Regions from separate parts of the Homo sapiens genome. Here region 1 is linked to region 2. The links come from fine-mapping of genetic effects on gene expression. A gene starts in region 2. The other region holds a variant in brackets. All regions are shown on one strand. Distances are between the middles of the regions.

Region 1 (5,374 bases), 27 kb before region 2:
GAGCTGAGGTCGTGCCACTGCACTCCAGCCTGGGTGACAGAGCGAGACTCTGTCTCAAAAAAAACAAGATGAGGAAGCACTAAGGTCACCCCTCTCCTCAGAACAGTGCATGACAAAGATAACCCTCTTCTTCTAGGGATGCAGATCTCAACCCAGGCTGCGTGTGAGAACTGCCCAGGGAGATTTTCACAAACACGATGGTCTCCTCCAATAGAATGTGTTTCTTAGACCTGTTTCTCCACATTTCTTGGGATAAGTTTATCAAAACCATTTTACTTCGCCTTTGTAGATGCCAGTTTGATACATCTTTCTCTTGAACAACTTTTGTCATTAATATATACACATCCCCACCTTATTTTTCACTTTTCTAACTCAGAGAGATATAGAAAAAATAAATCAACCAAAGTGTTTTTCCTTTTTCCTCACTCGACAATCAATACAGAATACTTCTGTGTCTTCTGTCACCAAAATGTATGGAGATTTCTCTGAATCAATAGCCTGGGAGTTGTATAATTCAGTTCTTTTTTCTTTTCTTTTTTTTTTTTTTTTGAGATGGAGTCTCTCTCTGTTGCCCAGGCTGGAGTGCAATGGCACAGTCTCGGCTCACTGCAACCTCTGCCTCCCGGGTTCAAGTGATTCTCCTGTCTCAGTCTCCCGAATAGCTGGGATTACAGGTGCCCGCCACCACGCCTGGCTAATTTTTGTATTTTTAGTAGAGACGGGGTTTCGTGTTGGCCAGGCTGGCCTCGAATTCCTGACCTCAGGTGATCCGCCCACCTCGGCCTCCCAAAGTGCTGAGATTACAGGCGTGAGCCACCACGCCCGACCAAGGTTGCATTGTTTTGTTTCTAATTAGCCTTTCCAAAGGAGGCAACAAGATACACATTTTTCTCAGTGAGCAGAGGGATGACTTTGAATAGAATGGAAGGCAGGTTTGCCCTAAGCAGTTCCCAACTTGACTTTTCCCTTTAGATGAGTGATTTTGGGGTTCCAATATTTATTTACCTTTCACTGATTTAACAGACAGAGAGGAACTGGAAAGAATTCAAAAATGAAGCCAGCAGAATTCTTGCACCACAGAATCAGTGTTGCAGCCTGGGAACAGGCATCCTCTCTCCACATGTAGAAGCAATGCCACTTCTTCACCTGGATGATACAGTCTCTTGACTGTAGATACAATTTCACTGTAACAGACCATTTCTTAGCCCCACCCCAACCTCTGAGGAGGGAGAGAGGCTGAAAGTTATTTTCATATTTTCTACTAAAAATATGAAAATTAGCTGGGCGTGGTGGCAGGCATCTGTAATCCCAGTTACTTGGGTGGCTGAGGCAGGAGAATCGCTTGAACCCGGGAGGTGGAGGTTGCAATGAACTGAGATGGTGCCGTTGCACTCCAGCCTGGGTGACAAGAGCAAGACTTCATCTTAAAAAAAAAAAAAAAGAATGTAACCGTTTGTCATGCCTTTGCTTTGAGTTGTCCTGCCTTTCAGGACTGAACCAATGTTCATCTTACATAGATTGGTTAATATCCCATTTCTCCCTAAAAATGTATAAAACCAAGCTCTGCCCTGACCACCTTGAGCACATGTCATCAGGACCTCCTGAAGCTGTGTCACAGGCATGCATCCTTAACCTTGGCAAAATTAACTTTGTAAATTGACTGAGACCCATCTCAGGTACTTGGGGTTCACAAGTTTCACCACTAGCTCCACAGGCATCCCAGCCCTTCTCCTTTGTCTGTTCTGGCTGCAGCTTCCTCCCTGCCCTCCCCACTCCAGGTCATTTCACATGGGACTTCATCATTCTGATGAGTAGTCTGAAATTATGCTAATGCCATGAGAAATCATTTTCAGTGGGAGTTTGAGGCCATTTTTTTTTTTGAGACAGAATTTCGCTCTTGCTGCCCAGACTGGAGTGCAGTGGTGTGATCTTGGCTCACTGCAACCTCCACTTCCCAGGTTCAAGTAATTCTCCTGCCTCAGCCTCCCGAGTAGCTGGGATTACAGGTGAGCGCCATCACGCCCAACTAATTTTGTATTTTTAGTAGAGACTTGGTTTCACCATGTTGGTGAGGCTGGTCTCGAACTCCTGACCTCAGGTGATCCGCCTGCCTCAGCCTCCCAAAATGCTGGGATTATAGGTATGAGGCCATTTAAAGACATTAAATACAAAATTCTGACCACTTAATTGAGAAAAAAGGAAAGCAATGTTAATGTTATCACCTCAGGCCTGTTAGAACGGTTCTTATCAAAAAGACTAATGATTTCAAGTGTTGGCAAAGATGTGGAGAAAAGAAAACTCTTGTACCCTATTGGTG[G/A]GAATGTAAAGTAGTACAGCCATTCTGAAAACGGTATGGACGTTCTTCAAAAAACTAGAAATAAAAGTATCCTGGCCAGGCGCAGTGGCTCACGCGTGTAATCCCAGCACTTTGGGAGGCTGAGGCGGGCAGGTCACGAGGTCAGGAGATCGAGACCATCCTGGCCAACATAGTGAAACCCCATCTCTACTAAAACTACAAAAATTAGCCAGGCATGGTGGCGCATGCCTGTAATCCCAGCTACTTGGGAGACAGAGGCAGAAGAATCCCTTGAACCTGGGAGGCAGAGGTTGCACTGAGTCGAGAATGCGCCACAGCACTCTAGCCTGGTGACAGAGTGAGACTCCATCAAAAAAAAAAAGGTATCCTATGATCTAGCAATTCCACTTTTGTGGTATATATCAAAAAGAATTTAAATTAGTATATTGAAGAGAGATATTTACCCTCATGGTTATTTTGGCATTACTGACAATAATCAAGATATGGAAGCAACCCAAGTGTCCATCAATGGATGAATGAAGAAACTGTGGGCTGAGCATGGTGGCTTATGCCTGTAATCCCACACTTTGGGAAGACAAAGCGGGCAGATGGCTTGAAGTCAGGAGTTCAGGACCAGCCTGGCCAACATGCCCGTCTCTACTAAAAATACAAAAATTGGCTGGGCATGGTGGTGGGGACCTGTAATCCCAGCTACCCAGGAGGTTGAGTCAGAAGAATAGCCTGAACCCAGGAGGAGGAGGTTGCAGTGAGCTGAAATCATGCCATTGCACTCCAGCCTGGGCAACAGAGCAAGAACCTGTCTCAAAAAAAAAAAAAAAAAAAAAAAAAAAAAAAAAAAAAGAAAAAGAAAAAAGAAAGAAAGAATAGAAAAGAAAATGTGGTGTATATATATATTGGAGAACTATTTTTCCATAAAAAAGAGGGAAATTATGTCATCTGTGATATCTTGGATTTAACCAGAGGATATTCTGCTATGTGAAGTAAACCAGGCATAGAAAGACAAATACTATATGATCTCACCTATACGTGGAATCAAAAAGGTTGATCTCACAGAAACAGAGAAAAGAGACTAGAAAGGTGGCAACCAGAGGCTGGGTCAGGGGGACGGGAAGAATACGGAAAAAGAAGATGTTTATGGAAGGATACAAACTTTTATTTAGTCTGGAGGAATAAGTGTGTTCTATTGTACTGCATGGTGAACACAGTTAATAATGAATTGTACATTTAAATCACAATATTCAATTTTTAATATTCTCACAACAAAAAAGATGCTAAATTGGTGAGTGGATGGCTATGTTAATTGGCTCAATTGAATCTTTCCATACTGTATACATATATCAAACATCACATTGTATCTCATAAATATATAATAATTTTTTTTAATTGAAAAGAAAAGGGTGGAACCAAGATGGCCGAATAGGAACAGCTCCAGTCTACAGCTCCCAGCGTGAGTGACACAGAAGACGGGTGATTTCTGCATTTCCAACTGAGGTACTGGGTTCATCTCACTGGGGAGTGTCAGACAGTGGGTGCACTGCACTGAGTGTGCGCCGAAGCAGGGCGAGGCATCGCCTCACCCGGGAAGCGCAAGGGGTCAGGGAATTCCCTTTCCTAGTCAAAGAAAGGGGTGACAGATGGCACCTGGAAAATCGGGTCACTCCCACCCTGATACTGCACTTTTTCCAACAGTCTTAGCAAACGGCACACCAGGAGATTATATCTCCCGCCTGGCTTGGAGGGTCCTATGCCCACGGAGCCTCACTTATTGCTAGCACAGCAGTCTGAGATCAAACTGCAAGGCGGCAGTGAGGCTGGGGGAGGGGCATCCGCCATTGCCGAGGCTTGAGTAGGTAAAGAAAACAGCTGGGAAGCTCGATCTGGGTGGAGCCCACCACAGCTCAAGGAGGCCTTCTTGTCTCTGTAGACTCCACCTCTGGGGGCAGGGCATAGCCAAACAAAAGGCAGCAGAAACCTCTGCAGACTTAAATGCCCCTGTCTGACAGCTTTGAAGAGAGTAGTGGTTCTCCCAGCACGCAGCTTGGATCTGAGAACGGACAGACTGCCTCCTCAAGTGGGTCCCTGACCCCCTAGTAGCCTAACTGGGAGGCACCCCCCAGTAGGGGCAGACTGACACCTCACAAGGCCGGATAATCCTCTGAGACAAAACTTTCAGAGGAACGAATAGGCAGCAACATTTGCTGTTCACCAATATCCGCTGTTCTGCAGCCTCCGCTGCTGATACCCAGGCAAACAGGGTCTGGAGTGGACCTCCAGGAAACTCCAACAGACATGCAGCTGAGGGTCCTGACTGTTAGAAGGAAAACTAACAAACAGGACATCCACACCAAAAACCCATCTGTACATCACCATCGTCAAAGACCAAAGGTAGATAAAACCACAAAGATGGGGAAAAAACAGAGCAGAAAAACTGGAAACTCTAAAAATCAGGGGGCCTCTCCTCTTCCAAAGGAATGCAGCTCCCCACCAGCAATGGAACAAAGCTGGACGGAGAATGACTTTGATGAGAGAAGAAGGCTTCAGATGATCAAACCTGAGCTAAAGGAGGATGTTTGAACCTATGGCAAAGAAGTTAAAAACCTTGAAAAAAATTAGACGAATGGCTGACTAGAATAACCAATGCAGAGAAGTCCTCAAAGGACCTGATGGAGCTGAAAACCATGGCATGAGAACTACGTGATGAATGCACAAGCCTCAGTAGCCAATTCAATCAACTGGAAGAAAGGGTATCAGCGATGGAAGACCAAATGAATGAAATGAAGCGAGAAGAGAAGTTTAGAGAAAAAAGAATAAAAAGAAATGAACAAAGCCTCCAAGAAATATGGGACTATGTGAAAAGACCAAATCTACGTCTGATTGGTGTACCTGAAAGTGAAGGGGAGAACGGAACCAAGTTGGAAAACACTCTGCAGGATATTATCCAGGAGAACTTCCCCAATCTAGCAAGGCAGGCCAACATTCAAATTCAGGAAATATAGAGAATGCCACAAAGATACTCCTCAAGAAGAGCAACTCCAAGACACATAATAGTCAGATTCA
Region 2 (5,374 bases):
ATGGCACGGAACCTGATCTGTCCCAAGTGGGAGTTTAACCAAGCTAGCGGGGGCCCAGGGCCCTGGCCCAGTCTGACACCTACCTCCTCTCCCACCTTCTACTCACCCAGAAGACTAGGAGAATCTGAAAGCAGAGGTGGTGCAGCGTCACTAGCTCCAGGAATCCAGAAAAACAGGGATAGGGCATTCTGGGAGGTTGAAGTGGGTGGATCACTTGAGCTCAAGAGTTGGAGATCAGTCTAGGAAACACGATGAAACCCCATCTACACAAAGCAAAAATTAGCTTGGCGTGGTGGCGCGACCTGTAGTCCCAGCTACTCAGCAGGCTGAGGTGGAGGATCGCTTGAGCCTGAGAGGTCCAGGCTGCAGTGAGCCATGATTGTGCCACTGCACTCCAGCCTGGGTGATAGAGTGAGACCCTGTCTCAAAAAAACAAAACCAAAAAAACAGAGCTAGGGCTGGGGACCCCTATGGCCACTGAATCTGAGCCCCTGGGGGCAGAGGAACTGAGCTCCCAGCCCTGTGGCTGCCAAGGATCCTTTTTCCTTGAGCTTGCAGGGATTGAGAGAGAGAGAGTCAGCGGCCCTGATGTTAGCGATGCAGACTCCAGGAGAAGGGGGCATGCTCGCAGTTTAGAGGAAGTGAGCCCCTCTTCCACGTTCCACTCCCACCATCCTCCTGGGACCCCAGCCTGCATGCCCCCCAAAAGATGCTTTTGCACTGATTCAACAAAGCCTAAAGATGCAAAGGCCTAATTGAAGACCTGTGAATGGCATGTACGGTCCTCAGTTCCCAGCTGAGGGGCCACTCGGGCTCCCCATATTCCCCTCAGCCTCTCCATCTTCCAACAGGGGTGTGGAGTGCATCCATGGCCATGAGTATTGATCTGTCCCAGCCTGTGCATTGCTCCGAGGCAGTTCTGAGTGGATGATGTACAGATGGGATTCCTCAGCTCATTTGCGTGGTTGACGTTATGGCTGCTGGTTTTACTGCCACAACTCCCAGGCCCAACCTGGCTTAATGTCTAAGTTTTAAGCCAAAAAAGATGGGGAGCAGAGCTTTGTGGCAGGGCTGGGGGTTGGGGTCCACTTTAGTTTTGTGGCAGGATGAAGGCTGCAGTGGTTTTATTAATCATGATTGGCCTGGCCGTAGCTCCAGGCTGAGAGGGACAGGTTTGTCAGTGGTGGTCCCCCAGATGTCCCTGTGCCCAGCCCTGGCCTGTCTGCCCTCAGGCCCAGCAGGAGGCGCTACCACAGGCTCTGACTGGCGTCCCTACTCCCTGTACCCCAGATGGACAGAACCTTCGGGTCTACAGTCGGAATATATCATTCTCCCCATTTTAACCTGAGCTGCCTGACACACGGAGGGTGTGCTGGGTAAGGGGCCTAGGGAGCCAGGGTTGAATCATGGATCCTGGGGAAAGGTTGCAGACACAGGAAGGGTTGTCACCTCTCTGTGGAGCCCTGCTGCTTACCACACAGCACCTTCTGCAGAGACTAGCTCTGAGGGTGGCAGGGGACCCCACAGGCCATGGCCACTCCCTCTCTGCACCTGTCCGTGCCTGCTGTGGAAGCCTGGACTGGGGGAGGAGATTGCTACCCTGTGAGCCTGAGGGAGCCACGTCCAGCTGTGACCTCTACCTGGGGCTTTACAGAGAGTTGTTTATGGGTAACAGACACCTTGTTTCAGAGGGAATGGGCATGAGCTGGCAAGTGAAGCACCCCCACAGCTTATCAGGAACTTTTTCTCATTTTTAAACCATCATGTCTTCATTTCACATTGGAATAAAGTGAGGTTTTGGAACCTGCTGCCCCAGTCTCTGGATTGTGAGGGCTGTTGTCAAACAGGTTACTAGGAGAGGAATATGTATAAATTAGCTCAAATTCAAGGTTATGCTTGTAATGTCACCTGAGTGGGAAGTAAGAGGGTGGAGTCACAGGCACTCAGCTGGGATTTACCTGGCCTCGTCACTAGACTAATGGGATTGTGGCACAGGTGAACATCCCGTCATTGGAGAAGAAAGGCTGGATTGAAGGCCAGGTGGGGGAGGGGTGCTAGGCTGTGGGGTCAGGCCCTGGGCATGCTGGACCTGTTAGGTCACTGAACATCTGACTGGGCACCTGCCCAGATTTGTCCCTTCAGTTGAGGTGGGATTGGCAGCACTCCCCAGAAGGCGTGCAGTGCCGGGAGAGTGGAGGAGGGTCTGACGTTTGCTATCCTGTGGTAGGTTTTAGAGCTAACTAGATGCTTGTGGAGAGCTAATGACATGGGAAGAAGGCAGCCCACCTTGATGGACCGGAGGGTTAGAGCCTGCGATGTGAGAAGCGGGTGTGTGGAGGTGGCCTGTCTACAAGAGGGCAAGTTTAAGGCCCATTGCAGTGGCACTATCTCAGCTCACTGCAGCTGGTGGCTGCCAGGCCATCCCTCTCCAGAGCAGGGAGGCCCTCAGCCTTATGTATAATTGAATGCCTTTTGGGATGCTTGGATAGTCCTTTATGTCTTGGAAATTCAGAAAAGAAAAAAAAAATTACAATCCTCCTGTCTGTTAGTTTCCCTGAGCCAACTGGATAAAAGATGTCCCTGACCCCAAGATTTTAAGTGACACCCAAGGGAAGCCACCGTTACCTTGGCTGTTGAAGCCTCCTGCATGCTCCCCAAAAACCCCAGCAGTTTCCTCTGCAGTCCCACAGTTATGTCCTGAGCAGTGGGGTACCGTGTGATGAGAGGTGCTAAGGATGGGATGAGGGTCTTTCCTGTGTTATTAGAACGGTTAAAAAGTTGTTTTAAAGGTGCCCAAATGCCCTCCTTCTTAAACTTAATTAGCTAATAAGATGCCTTATACAAGCAAAACCAGGTACGGGAAAGCAAGTGCATTTCAAGTCCAAGCTCACCCCTTAAATTAGCTGTAATACCCTCAGCAGGTGGCCCCACCTCAATGAGCCTGTCTCCCATTCAAAAAGCAGAACGAGTGAGAGGGCGGGGCCTGGAGCTTTACCCAATCAGTGGCGTCGGAGTGGAAATCCTCCAATCGGGAGTAGCCGGAGAGCAGGGGCGGCTTCCGGGATTTGGCGGTGGCCTTTGTTGGCTGCAGTAAGAGCTCAGTCTCTTCACCAGGGGCTCCCAGTCCTTCCATCTGGGAGGCCAAGGCGGCTTCGCGTTCTGAGAATAGACAGAACCTCTGTTACTCTGTGACCGGCAGGCACCGGGAGATCCGTAGCTCAGACGCCAGGACATCCCGGAAGCTGGGAAATGGTGAATGTGCCAGGTCGGGGGTCCCCAGAAGAGGGAGAGGGGCGGTCGGAAGCGGCGGGAACCCTCTTTGAGGTTAGCTTCGGGGTCTGGGCCCTGAGTCCCCGCGGACGCAACTCGGCCCTTGGTCCCCTCCGCCGCAAGATGGCGGCCGGGCCGGCAGCCGGGACCCCGCGCGTCCGGTCCCCTCCCGACCCCGCAGAGCGACCTCTGCCATGGCCGGAGCCGTCTTTGGGTCGCCGCAGCCCGGCGTCTCCCGAGATTGTGCGGTGAGAACGTGAGGGTCTTAGGGGAAATCCCGGGTCGGCGTGTGATTCGTGTGTGGGAAGATACTGTGCCCCGTGGTGTCCCAGTCTCCTTTTTCCTCTTACAAATTAAGGGGAGTCACCCTTAAAGCGTTAAAGGGTTGATTTAGGTAAACAGCGATTGGTGAAATGGGAAGCCTGCCGCCGTGGTTTGTGGTTTAGGGTCCTCTGGAGCAGCGATTTCAAAATCCCAGGGCTCAGCTTAGGAATGCTGCTGGGGAAAAGAAATAGGGACAATCTCTCTTCCACTTTGGCTGTAGAAAACGAATACATTTCCACAGAAAGTGTGCTAGATTAATTGGTCAATTACAAACATTCATTAAAATATCAGGTCCTCTCTTTTGCAGTGGAGGATTTGTGACAGTGGATATCTGTGTTCCATATTCTACTGCTATCTGGATGTCCGACTTTAATGCCAAATGTTATGAGACAGGACTTGGCACCTCCTAGAAGTGTTCACATATACTAAATGATCTGCTATTATGGAAATAATTAAATGACATGTTTCTTGCTCGAAAGAGGTATTTTGGCCTTACCTGTTGAAGTATAAAGTGTAAGTGCCTTACAGTTTCCTTCCTTTCTATAAAAACTGTTTTGAGTGATTTTGCTATTTTCCTGAAACCTGTTAGGTCACTGAACATCTGACTGGCTGGGCACCTGCTCCTGTCCCTTCAGTTGAGGTAGGATTGGCAGCACTCCCCAGAAGGCGTGCAGTGCCAGGAGAGTGGAGGAAGGTCTGACGTTTGCTATCCTGGGGTAGGTTTTAGAGCTCGCTAGATGCTTGTGGAGAGCTGATGAGATGGGAAGAAGGCACCCCACCTCGATGGACCTGAAAGAGAGAGCCTGCGAATTGAGAAGCGGGTGTGTGGAATAACCCTGACTAGGCATAGAAGACCTCAGTCTTATTTGAGCCTGCAAAAGGAGGTCATTGAAGGCCCAGTTAGTTCTTCCTGGGGAGCGCCCCCTTCAGGTGTCCCTGAGGTTCACAGCAGCCATGGAGGGAGCCCTTTGTTACTGGGAGAAGCTGCAGAGTTCTGGAAAGCAGGGGATTCACAGGCGGATGTGGTCGAGGTTGGGCTGGAAGGGAGATTGGGAAGCTCTTTCTGAGGGTGGAATTGTTAGTGTCCTGGGGCTGTTTCTTGACTTGGTCAAATAAAACATCTGGATATAGGTAAGAAGTGCCTTAATTGTAAAGGAGTATTGCAAGAGGAGGAAAGCACCAACTGTAAGATATTTGTGGATCTCACAGTTGAAGCAGAAAAGGCCTTTCTTTCATAGGGAGGAGCAAACATGATTCAAGGTGGGAGGGGAAGGGCACGACTCCTGGACTAAATCAGATCCCTGATCAGAGAATGTTTCACCCTGAAGTCAGCCTGTTCTTAGGAGGGGCATAAAGAGGGGTTGAATGTTGACTCAGGCTGTGGGTGGGACAAACCTCAGGCACCTTGGAGAAGGGGAGAAATTTAAGCAACTTTGGTTAACACATATTTTGTTTTGACCATCGAAGATAAAACTCTTTATTTAATTGCTTATGAGGGGGAAAAAAAGGAAATAGGAGAGTTTGTGGCTTTGTGATACCTAAAACAGGGAGCATCATCTAAGTCATAACAGGAAGAAGATTCTTTGCAGTAAGCTGCTCTTGAAGAACAAAAAGGAAGGGGGATTTCTTTCATCACAGCTGCTTCCCAGGGTTAACTACCTACTCCATCTTTTCCCCACTCCTTTCTCTTGCCCTACACATCTCTTCCATTAGGCTGAGTTGTATCTTTTATAATAAACTGGTCAATGCAATTACAGTCTTTGCTGAGTTCTGTGAATCC

The links. PIP is the estimated chance that this variant, and not a neighbour inherited with it, causes the effect.
Region 1: its variant is the best candidate, but not a certain one, in a credible set for the expression of KRABD5 in whole blood (TOPMed, PIP 0.85).

What each region holds. Positions count from the first base shown.
Region 1 is chr16:31,683,510-31,688,883 of GRCh38, forward strand. No RefSeq gene overlaps it. Among named protein-coding and RNA genes, the nearest start is that of KRABD5, 27 kb to the right of the region's middle. The variant G/A (reference allele first, on the strand shown) is at 2,318.
Region 2 is chr16:31,710,184-31,715,557 of GRCh38, forward strand. KRABD5 (KRAB domain containing 5) reads left to right here and starts at 3,061. Exons shown (of 5, transcript NM_001130913.2): 1 at 3,061-3,252. The coding sequence starts at 3,250. RefSeq lists enhancers at 3,228-3,347, 4,472-4,521 and a silencer at 3,438-3,497.